Linked DNA regions of Homo sapiens. The protein of the gene in region 1 interacts with the protein of each later gene in a pairwise test. Each region holds a gene or a part of one and is shown on either strand. Other genes may lie near its edges.

Region 1 (7,040 bases):
TTATGCATTTTATGGTTTGCAAATGTCTTTGCTATTTATTGTCCTTTTAATATCTCATCATAACTTTTTGACTTATGTATTACTATCCCCCTTTTCCAGCCTGGGTTGGACTCTCACCTCTGCCACTTAACTTCTGAGACTTCTGAGGTCTTTGTGGAAAAGGAGGTAATTTTTTCTGTCACTTAAAAACAGGCTGGGGGCAGTGGCTCACGCCTGTAATCCCAGCACTTTGGTAGGCTGAGGTGGGCGGATCATAAGGTCAGGAGTTCGAGACCAGCCTGGCCAACATGATGAAACCCTGTCTCTACTAAAAATAAAAAAATTAGCTGGGTGTGATAGCGGGCGCCTGTAATCCCAGCTACTTTGGAGGTTGAGGCAGGAGAATTGCTTGAACCTGGGAGGTGGAGGTTGCAGTGAGCTGAGACCACGCCATTGCACTCCAGCCTGGGCAATAGAGCAAGACTCTGTCTCAAAAAAAAAAAAAAAAAAAAAAACAAGGCTGGGCGCGGTGGCTCATGCCTGTAATCCCAGCACTTTGGGAGGCCAAGGCAGGGAGATCACAAGGTCAGGAGATCGAGACCATCCTGGCTAACATGGTGAAACCCCGTCTTACTAAAAATACAAAAAATTAGCCAGGCATGGTGGTGGGCACCTGTAGTCCCAGCTACTCGGGAGGCTGAGGCAGGAGAACAGCGTGAACTGGGAGGCGGAGCTTGCAGTGAGCCAAGATCATGCCACTGCACTCCATCCTGGGCGACAGAGCAAGACTCCATCTCAAAAAAAAAAAAATAAATAAAAAAAACCAAAAACACCTCCAATGCTCTTTCTCAAATATCATGGCTACCCTTCCTCCTGCTTTACTTCTTTCTTTCTTTTTTTTTTTTTGTGGCAGAGTCTCGCTGTGTCGCCCAGGCTGGAGTGCCATGGCATGATCTCGGCTCACTGCAACCTCTGCCTCCTAGGTTCAAGCGATTCCTGGATAATTTTTTGTATTTTTAGTAGAGATGGGTTATCTCCATGTGGTCAGGCTGGTCTCAAACTACTGACCTCAAGTGATCCGCTCACTTCGGCCTCCCAAAGTGCTGGGATTATAGGAGTGGGCCCAGCTCTAATTTTTGTATTTTTAGTGGAGTCGAGGTTTCACCATGTTGGCCAGGCTGGTCTTGAACTCCTGACCTCAAGTGATCCGCTGGCCTTGGCCTCCCAAAGTGCTGAGATTAGAGGTGTGAGCCACTGCGCCTGGCCTACTTCATCTATTATACAAGTAATGTATACTCATTCAATAAAAAGTCAAGCAAAATGAAAACAAACATCATCCCTAATCCCACCAATGAAGAGTTACTATCCTACCAGCATTTTTCTAAGCATATATACAATTTTAAAAGAAGCACAAAAGAATAATATTGGGATTATGCTGTATATTCAGCTGTACATTCTTTCTTCCATGTTGTATTGTGAGTATATCTTTCTTTACATCACTTAAAATAACCACCTAGTATTTTGTTTTATGGAATACAATATTATTTTGTTGATGAAGTCAAACATTAGATTGAACCATATATCTGACCTTTTTTTAACCTATAAAAATAGCAATTGCCTGAGCTACTTGGGAGGCTGAGGCAGGAGGATCCCTTCAGCACAGGAGTTCGAGGCTGCAGTGAGCTATATAATTATTCCTTTGTTGTGGGACATTTAGGTCATTTCTAAACTTTCACCAGGTTGTGATAAACATCTTTTAGCTCGTTTTTTAAAAAGTATTTTTTATTGAAGTATAATTTTATCATTTTCTTAGAATTCTCAGAATTAGAATTGGTGGGTCAAAGAACAGATACATTTCTAAGGTATTTAATACTTTGCAAAATGCCTTCCAAGAAGATTGAATCAATTGATTTATTCCCACAAACATTATATGAAAGTGCGCATTTCTTTATATTCTACCTTTCACAGTGGGTATTATAATTTAAAGAGTCTGGGCCTGGGTGTGGCAGCTCATGTCTATAATCCCAGCATTTTGGGAGGCTGAGGCAGGAGGACCACTTGAGCTCTGGAGTTCCAGACCAGCCTGGGCAACATAATGAGACCCTGTCTCTACAAAAAGTTACATTAACCAGGTGTAGGGGCTTGTGCCTCTGGTCCCAGCTACTTGGGAGGCTGAGGTGAGAGAATCGCTTGAGCCAGGAGCTCGAGGATGCAGTTAACTGTGATTGTACCAGTGCTCTCCAGCCTGGGTGACAGAGCAAGAGCCTGTCTCAAAAACAAACAAACACACACACAAAACACAAAAAAAGAGTCTGGGAAAAATAGCAATAATAGTTAACATTTATTGAAGTTTTTTTTGGAGATGGAGTCTCAATGTGTTGCCCAGGCTGGAATGCAGTGGTGCAATCTCAGCTCACTGCAACGTCCGCCTCCCAGGCTCAAGCAATTCCCATGCCTCAGCCTCCCAAGTAGCTGGGATTACAGGTGTGCACCACCACACGTGGCTAATTTTTGTATTTTTAGTAGAGACAGGATTTCTCCATGTTGGACAGGCTGCTCTTAAACTCCTGGCCTCACAAGTGATCCAACTGCCTTGGTCTCCCAAAGTGCTGGGATTACAGGTGTGAGCTACTGCACCTGGCCAATGGATCTTATTCTTATCCCAATTTTTTTTTTTTTTTTTGAGATGGAGTCTCTCTCTGTCGTCCAGGCTGGAGTGCAGTGGTGTGACCTCGATTCACCATAACCTCTGCCTCCTGGGTTCAAGCGATTCTCCTGCCTCAGCCTCCCGAGTAACTGGGACTACAGGCCTGTGCCACCATGCCCGGCTAATTTTTAGTAGAGACGGGGTTTCACTATGTTGGCCAGGCTGGTCTCAAACTCCTGACCTCGTAATCCGCCTGCCTCGGCCTCCCAAAGTTCTGGGATTATAGGTGTGAGCCACTGAGCCTGGCCTCTTATCCCTATTTTATTGATGAAGACATTGAGACACAGAGTTTAAGTAACTTTCTTAAGGCCACACAGCTTGTAAGAGGCAGGATGATGACTCAGACCCAGGCAGTGTGACTCTTGAGTTTGCACTCATTACCTCTACACTATATTGCCTCAGTGTATCATTGTTATAATGGAATTTCTTTGATTATAGTGAGGTTAAACATTTTTCGTATATTTACAGGCTACTTAACAACTGTTTGTCTTTTTCTCATGGCTTTTTTGACTGCTGCCATTCTGGGAAAATTTTAAAGCCCAACATTATAGTTAACTTCCTTCATTGTTTCTAAGGGTGAGGTCATGGAGGCTTGGTTTCTGATAAAATCCTCTCCATATTTAGCTTTAGCCTTGTACCTTCAGAAATGGTTATTGTATTTACTTCAGAGTTTCTGTCACCTGAGTCTGGTTTTTTTTCTTTATGGGAGGAAAAGGGCTTTTTTTTCTTAACATTTTGGGGAAATCACCGTGTTTTATCACTGTACCATGGCTGCACTTTTTTAATGACACCAAATACACGTTAGAGCTCCCCAGGTGTTCTTCCATACCTAGGCAGGGAGTAGGGCTTGGATTTTGCTCAGGCCTTGTGTGATTGGCTCAGACTCACATCCTATGTTTACATTCCTGTGTAGAATTTCCAGGCCTAGTGTAATCTCCCAGCCGGAGCAGAAAGAAGAGCCATGGGTCCTACCACTCCAAAACTTTGAGGCGAGGAAGATCCCGAGGGAAAGCCACACAGGTGAGATGTGAGTGCTCCCCAGTGGAAGGAAATCTAGCATTTCAGCCTTGTTTAGATGAAGAATTTGGAATGCTGCCTTAGAATTTTGTTCTTACTAGCAGACATTTTTTTTTTTTTTTTTTTTTTGAGACGGAGTCTCGCTCTGTCGCCCAGGCCGGACTGCGGACTGCAGTGGCGCAATCTCGGCTCACTGCAAGCTCCGCTTCCCGGGTTCACGCCATTCTCCTGCCTCAGCCTCCCGAGTAGCTGGGACTACAGGCGCCCGCCACCGCGCCCGGCTAATTTTTTGTATTTTTAGTAGAGACGGGGTTTCACCTTGTTAGCCAGGATGGTCTCGATCTCCTGACCTCATGATCCACCCGCCTCGGCCTCCCAAAGTGCTGGGATTACAGGCGTGAGCCACCGCGCCCGGCCACTAGCAGACATTTAAATTTGACTTAATGGTCAGTAGTTGACTAAATAAAGTCTTCATTTTGATTAAGCATTTCACTTTTGTCTAACCTATGTTTTTTTTTGAGATGGAGTCTCCCTCTGTCTCCCAGCCTGGAGTGCAGTGACACAATCTCTGCTCACTGCAACCTCCGCCTCCCGGGTTCAAGTGATTGTCCTGCCTCAGCCTCCCAAGTAGCTGGGACTATAGGCACCCGCCACCACGCCCAGCTAATTTTCATATTTTTAGTAGGGATGGAGTTTCACCACGTTGGCCAGGTTGGTCTCGAACTCCCAACCTCAAGTGATCTGCCTGCCTCGGCCTCCCGAAGTGCTGGGATTATAGGCGTGAGCCACCACGCCTGGCCTAAACCTATAATATCTTCTAAAGAAACCGCACAATATTGACAATATGTGGTCTCCGCTTGAAGGATATCAAGATTCATCTGGCCATCTTAAAATTTAAAAAGTTTAGGAATTCACGTGTTCTGACAGCTCAATGAACCTCAATAAACTTTTCACAAAGTGAAAACAGAGCGGTTGAATTAAGTGCAGTCTGCTGCAGAAACAGGGATTTTAATCTTTGTCACTGCTTTCTGATATTCCTTCCTGATAACTGATAACTTTATTCTCTGTTACTTACATTAATTTTTCAGACTGTGAGCATCAGGTGGCAAAGCTCAATCAGGACAATTCTGAAACAGCAGAACAATGTGGAACATCCTCAGAAAGGACCAATAAAGATCTTTCTCATACTCTTAGTTGGGGAGGAAACTGGGAGCAAGGCCTAGAATTAGAAGGGCAACATGGAACCCTTCCAGGAGAGGGCCAGCTGGAGTCCTTTTCACAGGAGAGGGATTTAAACAAGCTCCTGGATGGATATGTAGGAGAGAAGCCTATGTGTGCAGAATGCGGGAAAAGCTTTAACCAGAGTTCCTATCTCATAAGACACCTAAGAACCCACACTGGCGAGAGGCCCTATACGTGCATTGAGTGTGGGAAAGGCTTCAAACAGAGCTCAGACCTTGTCACCCATCGCAGAACACACACAGGAGAGAAGCCCTACCAATGCAAGGGGTGTGAGAAGAAATTCAGCGACAGCTCAACACTCATCAAACATCAGAGAACCCACACAGGGGAGAGACCCTATGAGTGCCCAGAGTGTGGAAAGACTTTTGGGCGGAAGCCACACCTCATAATGCACCAAAGAACCCACACAGGCGAGAAGCCCTACGCGTGCCTGGAATGTCACAAAAGCTTCAGTCGAAGCTCAAATTTCATCACTCACCAGAGGACCCACACAGGGGTGAAGCCTTACAGGTGTAATGACTGTGGGGAGAGTTTTAGCCAGAGCTCGGATTTGATTAAGCACCAACGAACCCACACGGGAGAACGGCCCTTCAAATGCCCGGAGTGCGGGAAGGGCTTCAGAGATAGTTCTCATTTTGTAGCTCACATGAGCACTCATTCAGGAGAGAGGCCTTTCAGTTGTCCTGACTGCCACAAAAGCTTCAGTCAGAGCTCACATTTGGTCACGCACCAAAGAACACACACAGGTGAGAGACCTTTTAAGTGCGAAAACTGTGGGAAAGGATTCGCCGACAGCTCCGCCCTCATTAAGCACCAACGAATCCACACCGGAGAAAGACCCTACAAATGTGGAGAGTGTGGGAAGAGCTTCAATCAGAGCTCCCACTTTATTACCCATCAGCGAATCCACTTAGGAGACAGGCCCTATCGATGTCCTGAGTGTGGCAAGACCTTCAATCAGCGTTCCCATTTCCTCACACACCAGAGAACGCATACAGGAGAAAAACCTTTCCACTGTAGTAAATGTAACAAGAGCTTCCGTCAGAAAGCGCATCTTTTATGCCATCAAAACACCCATTTGATTTAGGAAGTAGTCTTTGGTGTTCAGCTGCTCCCTTGCACATTTTCATTGCTACTGTCTTCAAGCACCCCAAATAGAGAAAACCTGGGCGTCAGTGGCTCAATTTGGGCCCTGATCTATTCTCCCTCTTTCTTGTCTATGTTATAACAGAGAGGATAAACTTAAAGGGTCCAAATAACGGTCCGAATACAAAAGGCATTCCTTCAGTGTGTGACTGACTCTTAGGGAAATGTGAGTTTAATAGTTGATGCCCGCCAGGCGTGGTGGCTCACCCCTGTAATCCCAGCACTTTTGGGAGGCCAAGGTGGGTGGATCACTTGAGGTCAGGAGTTGAGACCAGCCTGGTGAGCATGGTGAAACCTCATCTCTACTAAAAATGCAAAAATTAGCTGGGCATGGTGGCACGTGCCTGTAGTCCCAGCTACTCGGGAGGCCGAGGCAGAAGAATCATTTGAACTCAGAAGGTGCAGGTTGCAGTGAGTTGAGATCATGCCACTGCACTCCAGCCTGGGCAACAGAGAGAGACTCTGTCTCCAAAAAAATTAAAAAGTTGATGCCTAGTTACTAAATGAGAAGTGAGAAAAATGTGGCCTAGAGATCACATGTTCACCACCTAGTACAGTGCCTGGCACAACATAGATGCTCAATAACTAAATGGTCCCATCATTATTAATGATTAATAGTTGAGGTCTTATATAAAGGCTTTAATGCAGTACCTGGCCCTTAAAAGACACTCAGTACAAGATTGGTGGCTTTTATCAGTCTTATTACTCAATTAGAAATTTATTAGTGTAGTCCCCCCGCCCCAAACTCAGAACGTGAAAGAAATTAGATTGGAACTAGAAGGTTTGGGGTTGGAATACACAAATTGAATAAAATGGAAATGCACTGCCAGTTCAGTGCTGTGCAGGCATTAGTCACCAGAGGTCTCACTGCCATGACAAGGCCAAATTATCGTAGAGGATGTTTGCGGTCTTGTGACTTGGAGGCTGAAAGAATTTCAGAAGCTCTTTT
Region 2 (7,265 bases), on another chromosome or scaffold:
GCCCAAACACATCTATAAAAAGAATATGCACACACATCTCACTGAAACAAGTGCCTCATATCAAAGTTATTCTTCATCTTGAAAGTCAACATTATCAAACTAATCCTTTTAAAATGTAGTGGCAAAAATAGTAATTTTTACCAAGATCCTCTGTTAAATTGCTAAATACATCTAGTAACCTTGAACACTTGCTTAATACAATCCAGGAAACAAACCATAAACTAAATACTATGCCACTAACACAGTAGCTGAATGCAGAAAGAGTTTTCTAAATTATACATTAACCATTGTTGCTCAAATCCACAAATCAAAATCTAATCTTTGTTAACTACTACAAAAGTCATAAACCTAATCTTTGTTATTTATACAAACACCAGCAAAAGTGTCAATCCAAAATTTACCCAACTTTGAAAAAAAAAGTATCTTTGTGCATCTGAGTGTACACAATGAAATAACCCCAAAGAAGATTCTCAACAATTGTTTGAATTTTTCCCTAAGTAAATCATATGCTATCCTTTGGCACCATCAAATGCAAAACAAATATTCATTCATATTCTTAGCTAAATGTAAAAGCTTCTGAAAAAAATCATTAAAACAAAATTCTAAGTAAGAATAACCAAATTTTGCCCCAAATTTCTTATCTTCCTTTTCATTTCTAAAGGTGTCTTAAAAATCAAAAGCTTCTAGAAAATTAGTATTAATCTGGCCTTCTTTATTCATAACCATAAAACACGAAAGGCAGTGGAGCTGTCCAAAGACCAAGCTTGCTGCAGTATTATCTTACAGAGATGTTTTTCCATCAAAATTACTCATAAATTTATTTGCCCTAAAAAATAAGTCTGCTACTCTAAAATCCTCCACTACTCTACAATTCTCCCTTTCTTTATGCCATTTTGTTAAATGGGTGAGTTACCAACTACAGCATGAAACGTCCCGCACAAAGCTAAAGGCAGCTCAGGAACTCAAAGCCCTCAGCTCTGATTTAATCTCTCCCCCAGTAAACTTCCTTGGTTGGTTATCTGCCTTTCTCTGAAATGATTTCTTAACATTCTCCAGCAACTGAAAACAATAAGCAGAAATCTGGTTGATTAATCAAAAGAAACAGATTCTCATCTTTCTCTATCCCAACAACAGTGCGTTCTCCATTGAAAATGAAAATGCTGTCCATAAAACACAGCCCAGCACTTGTCAGGTGCAACACTCCTACAACACTAAAACTATCACATCACACGAGTACACCCTAAATAAGCACACCCTTTCCCCGAATTATCACAACACTAGTGAAATGCAGAGGTTTTCAACACCCAGAGTTTATACTTTATCATCCATACAAGAAAAAAATCAAATCAAAATGAGTCTCATTTCTTCAAAGTGGACAGGAAAGTCAAATCAAAAGCAATGAAGGGTGGAAGCAGATTCAAGATTTCTTGAGAGAAAGAGGTTTCTGGAATTTCCTACTTTTAGGGACAAAAGGATTCACAGTTTCAACACACAGTTCTCTCCTCAACAAAGAATTCCTTTCCTGCACCCCCCACCTCTGCCCTTACTTTTTAGTCTTTACCCCTGTCTCTAGGTCCCCTTTCACTCACCATGGTTCCTCGTCTTCTGCACCAAAGGCTCTCTTACACTTGATCTTTCACTACAGCATTTCTGCCCTGACCCTTGCAGACCTTCTGGAGCAACTCCCCATAACACGCACATTCGATTCCCACCCCCCTGCAGTCTACCCCAGTTCTACATCCATCAGGACTCCCCCAGCTTCTCTTAGCCCCCTCTCTTCCCTTACTCCCCATCTCATCCTTTAAATTCTGGGGCCCATCTCTTCCTGCTCCTCTCACCATTTGCTTTTAGCCCTGTCTCTTTACCTCACTGTTTTCACCTTGGATCTTGCTGAACCTCTTCAATTAACGTAATTACCCAGTTATCCTTGTCCCAGATGGCCATCACTTCTTACACCCTAACTCTAGTCTCCTTTCAGCTCTTCTGGTCCCAGAATCGTCCTACAGACACCCATCTCTTATCTGTTTCCTTTCGCCCTTCCACCACACTCTTATTCCTGACTCCACCTGGTTCCAGTCCAGGTCTCATTTGCCCTCCCTCACTTTACAGAATTTACATCCATCGCCCACCCACTAACCCATTCCTTTCTCAGAACCTCGCCAGCAGTTCCCACCACACCGTTGGTCCCAGTCCTTCAGCTCATCTCGCTCCGCACTAGTTCACACCCTCGTCACGTCTGGCTCTTAATCACTCTCTCTTTCCTACTCCCAACTATTACCCCAGCTCTGCCCCTCCTTGTCTTCCACTTCCAACACTTACCCCGGTACCCCTCACCCCAACACCACCCGCTACGAAGATTTCCCCTTCAAACCCCTGCTCTTACACCTAACCCCAGGATCCCTTTCCCCAGCCCTAACCTCATTCCCTGCCCGGCTTCCTTAACGCCCACCCTGGCTTTTGCCTCCTTCCTATCTCCTTGGCTGGCTTTTTCTCACTCCTCCTCTCCCTGGCTTCTAACCCTTTCTCCCCTTAATCCTCCTCATCTCATTCTCAACCCGGTTCCCCTCATCGCCTCCAAGCCTTCCTTTCCCTCTCCCTTCAACGCTTTTGCCCCAACCCAGCCGTCGCCCACCCCGCCAAAATAAGGCGCCCGCGCGCCCCGACTCCCGGCTCTCGCCTCCCGCCGCCCCCGCCCCGGGCGCCCCCAGCCCGCCGGCGCCGCGGTCCCGCCCCCTGCCGCCGCTCCTCCCGCCCGCGAGGCGCGCGCTGCCTTTGTCGCCCCTCACCCGGTGTGTGAGGATTTTGCTTCTTTAAAGGGGAGGGCTAGTGAGCCGGAGACTCCTATCCCCGCCTCCGAGTCTTAGAATGGGCTCCCTGGCCGTCGCGGCCTCCCCGGCCCCCGTTCCCCCTACCCCCTGGAGCTACCCACTTTGCTGCCTCCCCACCTCCTCCGTCCCCTCCCCCGGCCCCCTCTATTTACCGCCATCATCAGCACGCGCGAGCTGTCACCAGGGCGCGAGACAACCGAACACGGCCCCGCCCCCTGCCCGTCTATTGGCCCGCCCGCTGGAGCCCCGCCCCTCAGGCCCTGCATTGCGCCAACGGCGCAGCGCTGGGCCGCGACCCCGGCACCGGCACCCGTTCCGAGGGTTCGCGCCGCAGGCGCAAAGTTTAGGGTCAGCCACAAACGCGCGGCCGCTTTGAGCCTGGCGTAAGGGGCGGCGGCGTAGGGGGACGTTGTGAATAGCTGGTCGAAGTTTGGTTGAAGCACAGGAGGGTAAATAAGAAGGTTTCCAGACAAAGAGACTCTTAAAGGTACAGACTCTTATGTCTGTCCCTCCTCCTTAAAGGGCCAGAGACGCTCCCGAGCCCATCTCCGCCCCCTTCTTCCCGGGGAACTGTAAAGGTATTTTACATGAGTTTCCCATACTCTTTTCGGTTCACCTTTAACACCTCTCCCCACTGCGAAGGACAAAGGCTTTCTCACTATCCCGTCCGTATGTTTTGTTTTATTCTGTTAAAAGACGTTATTTCTGTGTTGTTCCTAAAGCAGCAGCCCTCAAACCGTGGGGTTTCCGGAGGCAGCGTTTGCAAAAGTTACTATTGGCTCCCAGGCGGGTGAGCACGTGTCTGGCTTTTGCCACAGATGACCCAAGAGAGATTCAGCTGTTTTATGGAAATCCCCCACAAGTTAGAGGATCGCTGCCGGAACTGAAGAAGTTCAGCAGATTGTAAGGCTTGGGAAATAAACCAGACTGACTTGGTAGTGGTCCATTGGGAAACAGAACAGCACCTAAGCTACAAAAGGCTTAGGTTAAGCAGTCTCCTAGGTGCACTGTCTTGAAACTACTTGCGGGGTGGTAGTGGGGGGAGGGGATGGGAGTCTCCCAAAATAAGATCAACAATTTCAACACCCAACACATAGCTAAGGCAGATAAAGACTTACATTTAAATATAAGGACAAGTAAAAGAAACAGACATTAGCTATAGTAGTGGCTCAAGTTACACACCTGTAAACAGGAGAACTAGGTAAGCACAAAAAAAAAAAAAAGAACACCACACACAATAGGAAGGGGGAAACTACAATGCCTGGACCAAGCGCTGTGTAGGCAATTTATTAACAACTTGCACTTTTAAAAGAGGTTTGATAGAAGGAGAGGAAGTGGAGTGTTTCAATTTGGTTTGGTCGGGATTTATCATGAGGTTCAAGGCCTCAGAGTTAGATTCAGAATTTAGCTCTCCCTTTGTCGTCCATCACAGTTAACATAATTCTTTTTAAGGAATTCTTAACATTATAACTCTAATTATATGTCTTATTCCCTTACTCAACAATCCCCAAGAAAATTCTTGGAGAAGAAAGATTGTTACTTATTCAATGTTAGTTCCATAACAAGGTGCTTTTGCTGAGTGAAGAATTTGGGAGCCACTTAAAACTTCCAATGGAAGGGATGCTCCCAGAATAGCAATACAGGAGGAAAAGTTTCTCAGTGATGTGAGCATGTATTAGATCAGTGTTCTCAAAAATGTGGCCTGGAGGCCGGGCACGGTGGCTCACGCCTGTAATCCCAGCACTTTGGGAGGCCAAGGCAGGTGGATCATGAGGTCAGGAGATCAAGACCAGCCTGGCCAACATGGTGAAACTCCGTCTCTACTAAAAATACAAAAATTATCCGGACGTGGTGGCGTGTGCCTGTAATCCCAGCTACTCAGGAGGCTGAGGCAGGAGAATTGCTTGAACCAGGGAGTTGGAGGTTGCAGTGAGCTGAGATCGTGCCACAGCACTCCAGCCTGGCAACGGAGTGAGACTCCATCTCAAAAAAAAAAAAAAAAAAAAAAAAGTGTCGCCTGGAAAGGCCTAGGGATCTCTGAGACCCTTTGGGCTGGGGGGATAGTGGGGTGCCTGAGATCAAAACGATTTTCCTAATAATACTGAGACATATCTGCATTGTCACTGTGATGATATTTGCACAATGATACAAAAGTAGCAATGGGTAAAACTGCTGCCTTAGCACAAATCAAGGCAACTGCACCAAGTTGTGCTAGAGGTCAAGGTATTCTTCACTGCTACAGTAAAAAAACACCTGTTTCAGGCCGGATGGGTGCAGTGGCTCACACCTGTAATCCCAACACTTTGGGAGGCCAAGGCAGGTGGATCACTTGAGGTCAGGAATTCGAGACCAGCCTGGCCAACATGGTGAAACCCCTCTCTCTACTAAAAATACAGAAATTAGCTGGGCGTGGTGGCACGCACCTGTAATCCCAGCTACTCGGGAAGCTGAGGCAGGAGAATCACTTGAACCTGGGAGGCAGAGGTTTCAGTGAGCCGAGATCGCACCACTGCACTCCAGCCTAGGCAACAGAGTGCGACACTGTCTCAAAAAAAAAAAAAAAAAAAACCACCTGTTTCATTTAAGAGGTCTTTGATGAAGACAATAAAAATTGTTTTATTTAAGTACACGTTTATGTGATTAAATGCATGTATGTATGCATCAAGCACTTTTAAGTACAACATTTGTCTTGAGGAAAAGCACTCTTGCAATTTGAGTTTGGAGCTGAATTAATAGCTTTCTTCATGGAACACCGTTTTTATTTGAAAGAACAGCTAACAGACTAGTTGTTCACTGGATATTTGGCAGACATGTTCTTAAAAATAAAGTAGAGCCTGATAGCATTGTCGGTTATGATAAAACTCAAGCCTTTATTTTTATTTTTGGAGACGGAGTCTCACTCTGTTACCCAGGCTGGAGTGGAGTGGCGTGATCTCAGCTCACTGCAACCTCTGCCTCCCAGGTTCAAGCAATTCTCCTGCCTCAGCCTCCTGAGTAGCTGGCACCACAGGCACACGCCACTAACGCCCAGCTAATTTTTTGTATTTTAGTAGAGACAGGGTTTCGCCATGTTGCCCAGGCTGGTCTTGAACTCCTGAGCTCAGGCAGTCTGCCCGCCTCAGCTTCCCAAAGTGCTAGGATTACAGGCGTGAGCCACCGCACCCGGCCTGATAAAACTCAAGCATTTAAGTCAAACAGAATTTCTAACAACTGACTTGTATCTCCCAATGTAAGTTTGATAGCTTCCCATGACTTTTTCTAATAAGACTGGTAGTGGGCCAGGCACGGTGGCTCATGCCTGTAATCCCAACACTTTGGGAGGTCAAGGTGGGCAAATCATTTCAGGCCAGGAGTTCGAGACCAGTCTGGCCAACATGGCGAAACCCCATCTCTACTAAAAATAAAAAAATTAGCTGGGCATGGTGGCGCATGCCTGTAATACCAGCTACTCAGGAGGCTGAGACACAAGAATTGCTTGAACCAGGGAGGCAGAGGTTGCAGTGAGCCGAGATCATGGCACTGCCCTCCAGCCTGGGCAACAGAGCAAGACTCTGTCTCACAAAACTAAAATAAGTCCGGGCACGGTGGCTCATGCCTGTAATCCTGGCACTTTGGGAGGCCGAGGTGAGCGGATTGCCTGAGCTCAGGAGTTCAAGACCAGCCTGCGCAACACAGTGAAACCCCATCTCTACTCAAAATACAAAAAAAATTAGCTGGGTATGGCGGCATGTGCCTTAGTCCCAGCTACCCGGGAGGCTGAGGCAGGAGAATTGCTTGAACCTGGGAGGCGGAGCTTGCAGTGAGCCGAGATGGTGCCACTGCACTCCAGCCTGGGCGACAGAACGAGACTCCATCTCAAAAAATAAAATAAAATAAAATAAAAATAAAAATAAATAAATATGATTTTTTGATACTGTATAATGTGTCAACATTTAGGAGATGTGCAGTGTTTTCCAAATGACCAATGCATGACACTACAAAATCACACATTAGTAAAAGATCCATTCAAAGTGCAAAATAAGGCCAGGTGCAGTGGCTCACGCCTGTAATCCTGGCACTTTGAAAGGCTGAGGCAGGTGGATCACTTGAGCCCAGGAGTTCGAGACTAGCCTGGGCAATATAGCGAGACCCCCATCCCTAAAAAGAAAAAAAAAAAGTGCAAAATAAACCAATAAATATTAATGGAATATAAAAAGTTCACTAATATACTTTGAGGTTCCACATTGCAACTAACCTTTAGCAGAGTTTTGATAGCATCAAAGAATATCCACAATTATCTGAAAAAGTTATGAATATATTTCTCCCTTTTTCCAAATACACATCTGTGGGAGGCTGAATTTTCTTCATATTCTTCAACCAAAATAACATTGAAACAGACTGAATGCAAAAGCAGATATGAGTATTTCACAGTCTTCTATTATGCCAGACATTCAAAAG
Region 3 (2,719 bases), on another chromosome or scaffold:
TCTGCCCCACCCCTGGTGCTCTCTACCCCTTACCCTGTGGTGTGTCTGGTCCTTCTTGCTCTGCCCCGCCACTCATGGTCGCCCCACTCCAGTGCTGTACCCGGCCCCTTTTGCTCTGTCCCAGCCCCTGTGCTGTGCCCTGTCCCTCTTGCTCTGCTCTTCCCCCTGCACAGTGCTCTGCCCCTCTTGCTCTGCCCCGCCCTCCTGTGCTGTGCCCCGCCCCTCCTGCCCTGCCCTACTCACTGCACTGTGCCCAGCCCCTCCTGCTCTGCCCCGCTCCCGCACCGTGACCGCTCCTCTTGCTCTGCCCTTCCCCCTGCACTGTGCCCCGCCCCTCTTGCTCTGCCCCACCCCCTGTGCTCGGCTTGGGCCCCCAACATTCTGCCGGTCCCCTGGTACTCTACTCCTCCCTCCCGACCTCACGCTTCGCAGCTCCCCCAGTGCTCTGCCTGGCCCCTCTAACTGTCCCTCCACCCAGTGCCTTCAATTGCTCAACCTGGGATCCCCGCTCAGTTGACCTTGCTCCCGCAGGCTAGAGCAGGCTGACCTCATTCTGGCCATGCTGGATGCTTCTGACCTGGCCTCTCCCTCCAGTTGCAACTTCCTGGCCACCGTCGTAGCCTCTGTGGGAGCCCAGAGCCCCAGTGACAGCAGCCAGCGCCTCCTCCTGGTGCTGAACAAGTCGGACCTGCTGTCCCCGGAGGGCCCAGGTCCCGGTCCTGACCTGCCCCCGCACCTGCTGCTGTCCTGTCTGACGGGAGAGGGGCTGGACGGCCTCCTGGAGGCGCTGAGGAAGGAGCTAGCTGCAGTGTGAGCCCCCTCCCACTCCCAGCCTCCCCTGACCCACAGTTTAAGTGTGGGTCCCTCAACTTCAATTTCTGAACCTACAAAATGGGTACAACCATTTCCCCTTCAAGGGATGGTTGTAAAAGGTCGGGAGAGACCATGTCTCTTGTCTCTTCCAGGTGTGGGGACCCGTCCACAGATCCCCCGCTGCTGACCCGAGCAAGGCACCAGCACCACCTCCAGGGTTGCCTGGATGCCCTCGGCCACTACAAGCAGTCAAAAGACCTGGCCCTGGCGGCAGAGGCGCTGCGGGTGGCCCGGGGTCACCTGACCCGGCTCACAGGTGGAGGGGGTACCGAGGAGATCCTGGACATCATCTTCCAGGACTTCTGTGTGGGCAAGTGACGGGATCCAGGGAAGTCGCACCCAAGCTGCGTGGAGACCCAGGAGCCTCGGGGGATCTGGAAACAGTTTAGGCCAATTGGGATTCTCATTCGCCTGGGAAAGAACTTGATTCTCAAATAGTGAAGCAACACAGCTGAGAGGTAGTGAGATCCCTGCAGGGACTCCCTGGAGATTCAGGCCCTGGAATGGGGCTGAATGGAGGTCCCGTTCGACCCTTGATGCTGGGGCATCCGGGTTGGGATGGAGATAGGAGGATCTCAGTATATTTGTTTCGTAGTTTTTTATTTATTTTGCAAATACCAAAGGAATGTAAAAAAAACTCAGGTGATCTAGAAGTGTTTATTTTCTTCCCTTCCCTTCCCTTCCCTTTCCTTTTCCCTTTCCCTTTCCCCTTCCCCTTCCCCTTCCCCTTCCCCTACCCTTCCCTCCTCTGTCTATTGCCCAGGCTGGAGTGCAGTGGTGCGACCTTGGCTCACTGCAACCTCCATCTCCGGGGCTCAAGCGCTTCTCCTGCCTCAGCCTCCTGAGTAGCTGGGATTACAGGCATGTGCCAGCATGCCCGGCTAATTTTTTTCTTTTTTTGAGACAGAGTCTCGCTCTGTCACCCAGGCTGGAGTTCAGTGGTGCGACCTCGGCTTACTGCAACCTCCACCTCCCGGGTTCAAGTGATTCTCCTGCCTCAGCCTCTTGAGTAGCTGGGACTACAGGCGCACACCACCACGCCAGGCTAATTTTTGTATTTTTAGTAGAGACAAGGTTTCACCATGTTGACCAGGCTGGTCTTGAACTCCTTGACCTCAGGTAATCTGCCTACCTTGGCCTCCCAAAGTGCTGGGATCACAGGCGTGAGCTATCACACCTGGCCCCAGAAGTGTTTCAACATGGAAATTTTCCTTAGCCCTTCTGTGGTTGTCATGGCTTAATGTGTGTCTTTCCAGAACTTTGAATGTTTGCATACTTGTGGATGTACCTTTCAAATATGTTTGTCTTGTGTATCATATATAAATGGTATTGTGTTCATTGCTCTACAAATTGTCATTTCTTTTTAAAAAAAAAACAGAATTATGGAGATGGGGGGTCTCACTATGTTGCCCAGGCTGGTCTTGAGCTCTTGGACTCAAGCCATCCTGCTGTCTTGGCCTCCCAAAGTGCTGGGATTACAGGTGTGAGCCACGGTGCCTGGCCTCATTCCTTTTTTAGTCTTTAGTCTTCTTTTTTTTTTTTTTTTTTTTTGATGGGGTTTCACTGTGTTAGCCAGGCTGGTCTTGATCTCCTGACCTTGTGATCTGCCCACCTGTGGCCTCCCAAAGTGTGTGTGTGTGTGTGTGTGTGTGTGTGTGTGTGTGTGTGTGTGTGACAGAGTCTTGCTCTGTTGCCCAGACTGAAGTGCAGTGGTGTGATCTCAGCTCACTGCAGCCTCTGCCTCCTGAGCTCAAGCCATTCTCGTGCCTCAGCCTCCCGAGCAGCTGGGATCATAGGTGTACCCTACCACACCTGGCTAACTTTTGTATTTTTAGTAGAGATGGGT
Region 4 (5,811 bases), on another chromosome or scaffold:
GCGGAGACTGCCCAGGCAGCATGCAGATGAGAAGCAGGGAGGCCCCAGGACGGAGTAGGGACCAGCAAGGATGCCTGGGAGGGAGTGGCCAGTAGGCTGGGGGACACCAGGCGAGTATGGTGGCCCAACAACCACTTGAGAAGGGGGCTGCAGTCAATGCCCTGGCCGGCTGGCTTGCCAGCTGCTGAGAGACCAGGTCAGAGGGCCAAGGAGAGGCATTGGGATTTGGGGAACTGGAGGTCGGTGGTGGAGTGGAGCGGTGGTTCCAGACACAGGCCACCCTTCTAAGGAGTGTGGCTCTAACAGGAGGACAGGAGGACATGGGCTCGGGACAGGAGGTGCTTCTTAACGTGACAAGGCCAGGCCCCTTACCTAAGTGGACACTAGTCCTGGGGCCCTCTCTGCAGGGTTGGTGCACATGAGGAAACTAAGGCATGGCCAGCTTGAGTGGTTTCCCAGGTGACCCAGGTGGTGTCTCGCAGACGGAGCCAGAACTCAACCTCGGGACTCCGACTCCAGCAGCCCCGGGCCCTGGGTGGCCAGAGTGCTTGCCTCCACCTGTTCGCTCTGCCAGAGTGTCCCGTGAGCATTTCCTCCCCGAGCCAGCAGCTGCGGCTGCTCAGGAAAGGCTCCCAGCTGTCCCAGAGCTGGCCACCTCAGACATGGACAGCCCAGGGGCTTGGGTACTCAGCCAGGTGCCCCAGGGGCTATGGGCATGGCACCGGCTTCCCAGTGGCAGCCACTCCTGGCTGTGGCTGGTGGGGCTCAGTGGCAGACCTGGGCTGGCTGGGCAGTGCCTGCAGCCCTCTGGTGCCAGGGGCAGCCGGTCGACTGGGGTCATACAAGGGGTCAGTTCTCAGCTCTCAGGCAGCCGTGCTGTTCTGTTCCTAGGAGGCCCAGGGAGGCACTGAGAGGGGTTTGGCGACTCCGACGCCCTCCACCGTGTAGGCCAAGTTGGGGGCACCAGCCTTCAGTGAGGGAGGCTCCAGGGCCGTGGTGGGGGGACAGAAAGGTGCCTGTGTCAGAGACAGCCTTGCCTGGACAGCAGGATGCCTGGTGCTGGCTGGGTTGGGACTGTGGCCAGCCCTTGCCAGGAGCAGCCATGGGGCAGCTCAGGTGGGTCACTGGGCCTCCGGGCCACCCCAGGGCTAGCTGTCAGAGCCCTCGCAGTGGGGACCCCGGAGGGGCGGGAATGCAAGCCCCAAACACAGGCACATGCAACAGAGATTTTCAGTGGCGAAGCCACACCCCTTGAGTCCTACTGTTTGCATCTGTTTTCAGCTCAGGAGGCTGAGCCAGCGCCCGCCTGGGCCTGAGGTCACACACCTGCCCAGTCCCTGCCCAGCCCTGCAGCCACACTGTTTCCAAACCACACTCTGGGAAGAGGGTTGTGAGCAGCAAGTCTGAAGTGCGGGGTGGAAGGTGCTGGGGGTTCATCCTGCCTCCCATTCCTGCCTGGCACTCCCACCCCGTCATCTTTGGAAGGACGCCGAGAGCCTGAGGGACAGGGACAGGGAGACCAGGCCTGCTCTACGAGCCTGGGGGAGCTCAGGGCCATTGGGGCTCCTTCTTCTACCACTGCCCCCCACCTTGTGGGAGGTTCCCATCTTGGCAGTGCTCAAGGGCACCAGCTAGGGCAGCGGCAGGGCCCTCCATGCTCCGGCAGCCCCAGGTCAGAAAGAGGCTCTCATTTTGCAGGCAAGAGTGTGGAGGCCAGAGAGGGCCGGAGCCAGCAGTGGGTCCTTGTCCTGCTGAGCGCACAGCAGGCCCTGTGCACACCACTGCCCCCGCTGGCCACTTGGCGCTGGTCAGGGCGGCGGGGCCTTGGCTGGGGTGAATGGCGCCAAACGCCTTCTCTTGTCTTTTAGGAGCTCTATAGGAAGGACTGCAATCTAGCGGCCCAGCTGCTGCAGTGCAGCCAGACCTACGGCAGGGTCCACAAGGTGTCTGAGGTAACGTGGCCCCGCAGCCAGGCCCACCCCGCCCCGGGACCACCGGGCTCCTTTTGTGCCAGTGCTACCCCAAAGCCATTTCCCATCTTTGAGGAGGAAGATGCCAGCTGAGCCTGAGCCTCCTCTGTCCCCCTCGCTCCTGTGGGGTCATGACATTGGAGGGGCCGCCAAAGGCACCCCACCTCACGCAGCCGGGCAGCCCCTGGCCCTCACCAGAGTCCCTTTGGCCCACCCCGGCTGCTGGTTGCCCTCGGTTTCCTTTGGGGGGCTGCTCCAGGTCCTTGCTTCCACTGAGCGCTGACACGGCAGAGTGACCTTTGTGGAGCTTCGCAGGAGCCTGTGGCTGGGCACGATGACCGGCAGTGCCTATTTCAGAAAGAAAACATTCAGGAAAGAGGGCGTGGCTGAGGCCACGTGGCAGGCAGGTAGCAGAGCCAGGACCCAGAACCAGGCCTGTCTGATGCCAAGGGCAGATGGGCCAGAGGCCCACCCCTGCCCGCCTATGGTCGCCGCACCCTGCGCACCCCGTCCCCCGACCCTCCCCTCACATGCAATCTCCCAGCCAGGCCTGTGCGTTCCTTTCCCCTGGTCCTGGGCCATGCCTGAGACACTCACAAAATAGATCAAACAGTAGCGGGACACCCCCACATGGCACCAGGCGCTCTCAGCCCTGGCCCTCAATCTTTGTTGCATCTGAGTCTGTCTTCTTCAGGAGCGCTCCAGCAGCATGACTGGGGGGCTGGGGAGTGGGTCATGCCCCCAGTAGAACCCACAGAACCCACGGGCCTGGGAGAGCAAGTCAACCCCTCGCTGGGCACAAAATGGGTGGGGTGGGGGTGGCGGGGGGTGGAGCCTTGAGTGGGGCCTGAATCAGACCTGGGTTCCGGCTTCTCCAGGCGACTGCAGCTTCTGGGCTCTCCTGGGCCCAATCAGAGTGGGGTGGGGAGAGGTGACCCAGGATCCCCAGGCAGTCACAGCACCCACACCCCTGGGAGCTTGTTCAGTACAGCGTCCTGGATCCAGGCTCCCCCTGGTGTGATTTGAGAAGCCGGGAGGCCCCCGTTCGTCTGTCTGCCTGTCGGTCATGGCTAACATCAGTCCTCAGCTTCAGGGCCAGGGCTGGGCTGCCATGCTAACAGTGACCCTGTACCCGCCGTCCCCCTCCTCGCACCCGTTCCAGCTGCCCTCGGATTTCCAGGAGCGCGTGAGCCTGCACATGGAGAAGCACGGCTGCAGCCTGCCATCCCCGCTCTGCCACCCGGCCTACGCCGACAGCGTCCCCACCTGCGTCATTGCCAAGGTGCTGGAGAAGCCGGACCCCGCCAGCCTGTCCTCCCGCCTGTCCGATGCCTCCGCCCGCGACCTGGCCTTCTGCGACGGGGTGGAGAAACCAGGCCCGCGGCCCCCCTACAAGGGAGACATCTACTGCAGTGACACAGCCCTCTACTGCCCGGAGGAGCGGCGGCGAGACCGGCGGCCTAGCGTGGACGCGCCCGTGACCGACGTGGGCTTCCTGCGGGCCCAGAACTCCACTGACAGCGCGGCCGAGGAGGAGGAGGAGGCCGAGGCGGCGGCCTTCCCGGCGGGCTTCCAGCATGAGGCCTTCCCCAGCTACGCAGGCTCACTGCCCACGTCCAGCTCCTACTCCAGCTTCAGCGCCACGTCGGAGGAGAAGGAGCACGCGCAGGCCAGCACGCTGACCGCGTCGCAGCAGGCCATCTACCTGAACAGCCGCGACGAGCTCTTCGACCGCAAGCCACCCGCCACCACCTACGAGGGCAGCCCTCGCTTTGCCAAGGCCACGGCCGCGGTGGCGGCCCCGCTGGAGGCCGAAGTGGCCCCAGGCTTCGGGCGGACCATGTCACCGTACCCGGCCGAGACCTTCCGCTTCCCGGCCTCTCCGGGTCCCCAGCAGGCCCTGATGCCCCCAAACCTGTGGAGCCTGCGGGCCAAGCCGGGGACCGCCCGGCTCCCCGGGGAGGACATGAGGGGCCAGTGGCGTCCCCTGAGCGTGGAGGACATCGGCGCCTACTCCTACCCCGTGAGCGCTGCCGGCCGCGCCTCACCCTGCAGCTTCTCTGAACGCTACTACGGCGGGGCCGGGGGCAGCCCGGGCAAGAAGGCCGACGGCCGCGCCAGCCCGCTCTACGCCAGCTACAAGGCCGACAGCTTCTCCGAGGGGGACGACCTCTCCCAGGGCCACCTGGCAGAGCCCTGCTTCCTGCGGGCGGGCGGCGACCTGAGCCTCAGTCCCGGCCGCTCGGCTGACCCACTGCCCGGCTATGCACCCAGCGAGGGGGGGGACGGGGACAGGCTCGGGGTGCAGCTGTGTGGGACCGCCAGCAGCCCTGAGCCCGAGCAGGGTTCCAGGGACTCCTTGGAGCCGAGCTCCATGGAGGCCTCCCCGGAAATGCATCCTGCCGCCCGCCTCAGCCCCCAGCAGGCCTTTCCGCGGACTGGTGGCTCGGGGCTGAGCCGCAAGGACAGCCTCACCAAGGCCCAGCTCTACGGAACCTTGCTCAACTGAGCGCCTGCGTGCAGGCCTGGCCGTGGTTCGCTCCCCGCCAGCCCACGTGCCCCAGAAGGGCCGGCCTCACCTCTCCCCAGCCCCCGCTGTTCCCCTGCCCCGGCCAACAACGAGGAGTCTGTTCCTCCCCGCACCTCCTCTCCTCCCCAGCCCTGTAGGCCTGAGGGGAGGGTCCCCCACACCACGGTGTCCACCCGGCCCCGGCCCGTGGAACTCCACTTAGAGCGTTTTTCACGCGTCCTTCCCCCATGTGAGAGGAGCATCCCCCCTTTTATAAAGCGAAACTATTTTTATAGAGAAAAAGGGTCTTTCTTAACGCACTTGGCCTCCAGCTCCCTGGACGGCTGCCTTGGCGTTTTCAACACAAAGCTCCTTTATTTTTTGGGCGAGGGTGCGTGGGGCCTGCCCCTTGGAAGGGAAGGGAAGGACGGTGTCCTGTGGAGACCAGACTCTGCAAGTGGGGAGACCACCCCCGCAAGCCAGTGACAAGGGAGCCCTGAAGTTGTGTCCACGAAGAGGGAGCTGAAACAAATTCGGGGCTATGAAGTGTTTTAAAAATCCATTCTTCGCAGTGTGGCCACCACACCGCCCTGAGCCCTCCCACGGCCCATCGTCCCGGGTGGGCCGGGATGATGCCCCAGTGCGGCCGGTGCTCATCTCCGCCCCCGGGTCCGCCCCCTGACACCGTCTTACTCTACCTCAGACATGAGGAGGCCCTCCATTCCTGGTTTCTGTAGCTTGCATTCTTGTTGTCTCTGATGCATGCCCTGCCAGTTAGTACTGTATTTTGCATTCATTAATAAAAGACACCGGTGGAAAGAATCTGGGTTGGGCTGTTTCTCCTCCTCCTGCCTTTTGGTCTCGGGAACCTGGGGTCCCTGGTGTCCCTCCCCAGCCTTGCTCTCTGCAGCCGAGTTGGGCCCCTTAACCCCACTTCACACCCCATCCCCATAACACCCCGTCCCCACCCCGCCATCCAAGTTCCTATCTAGGGTGTGGATTCTCCTGCTTCTCCCAACCCACTGGAGACAACAGCTCTTTCATCCCATTCTCCTGCGCGCTGCCCCACCGATTTCCTGGCCCCTAATCCTCGTGTCTCAGACTTGGCTTCTGCTCCTTGAGATGTACTGGGGCCACGGATGGAATGTCGGCAGGTGGCCTTTTCCCGGGCACACGGGATGCTGCCGCTCTGCTCTGTCTTCCTGTTGGTATTGGGAACTGGCTGTCAGTCCCGGAGCCGCTCCATTGGTTAGAAAAAAAAAATTGCTTTCTTTTCCCCGGCTCTTTAAGATTTTCTCTTTGACTTTGGCTTTCTGCAGTTTCCCTGAGGTG

What was found.
Region 2: the proteins of ZNF774 (region 1) and USP49 interact in binary tests that used the Homo sapiens proteins (3 or more experiments, as listed by UniProt).
Region 3: the proteins of ZNF774 (region 1) and GTPBP3 interact in binary tests that used the Homo sapiens proteins (3 or more experiments, as listed by UniProt).
Region 4: the proteins of ZNF774 (region 1) and BEGAIN interact in binary tests that used the Homo sapiens proteins (3 or more experiments, as listed by UniProt).

The regions. Positions count from the first base shown.
Region 1 is NC_000015.10:90,355,252-90,362,291, forward strand, and holds part of ZNF774 (zinc finger protein 774), read left to right. Parts: intron 1-3,599; coding exon 3,600-3,706; intron 3,707-4,791; coding exon 4,792-6,032; 3' UTR 6,033-7,040.
Region 2 is NC_000006.12:41,892,344-41,899,608, forward strand, and holds the start of USP49 (ubiquitin carboxyl-terminal hydrolase 49), read right to left. Parts: upstream 3,033-7,265; 5' UTR 2,981-3,032; intron 2,796-2,980; exon of another isoform or gene 2,787-2,795; intron 1-2,786. UniProt on the Homo sapiens protein: Deubiquitinase that plays a role in several cellular processes including transcriptional regulation, cell cycle progression or innate immunity.
Region 3 is NC_000019.10:17,340,513-17,343,231, forward strand, and holds the end of GTPBP3 (5-taurinomethyluridine-[tRNA] synthase subunit GTPB3, mitochondrial), read left to right. Parts: intron 1-531; coding exon 532-810; intron 811-965; coding exon 966-1,191; 3' UTR 1,192-2,219; downstream 2,220-2,719. UniProt on the Homo sapiens protein: GTPase component of the GTPBP3-MTO1 complex that catalyzes the 5-taurinomethyluridine (taum(5)U) modification at the 34th wobble position (U34) of mitochondrial tRNAs (mt-tRNAs), which plays a role in mt-tRNA decoding and mitochondrial translation.
Region 4 is NC_000014.9:100,536,637-100,542,447, reverse strand, and holds the end of BEGAIN (brain-enriched guanylate kinase-associated protein), read left to right. Parts: exon of another isoform or gene 1-1,868; coding exon 1,869-1,952; exon of another isoform or gene 1,953-2,318; intron 2,319-2,828; exon of another isoform or gene 2,829-3,132; coding exon 3,133-4,479; 3' UTR 4,480-5,301; downstream 5,302-5,811. UniProt on the Homo sapiens protein: May sustain the structure of the postsynaptic density (PSD).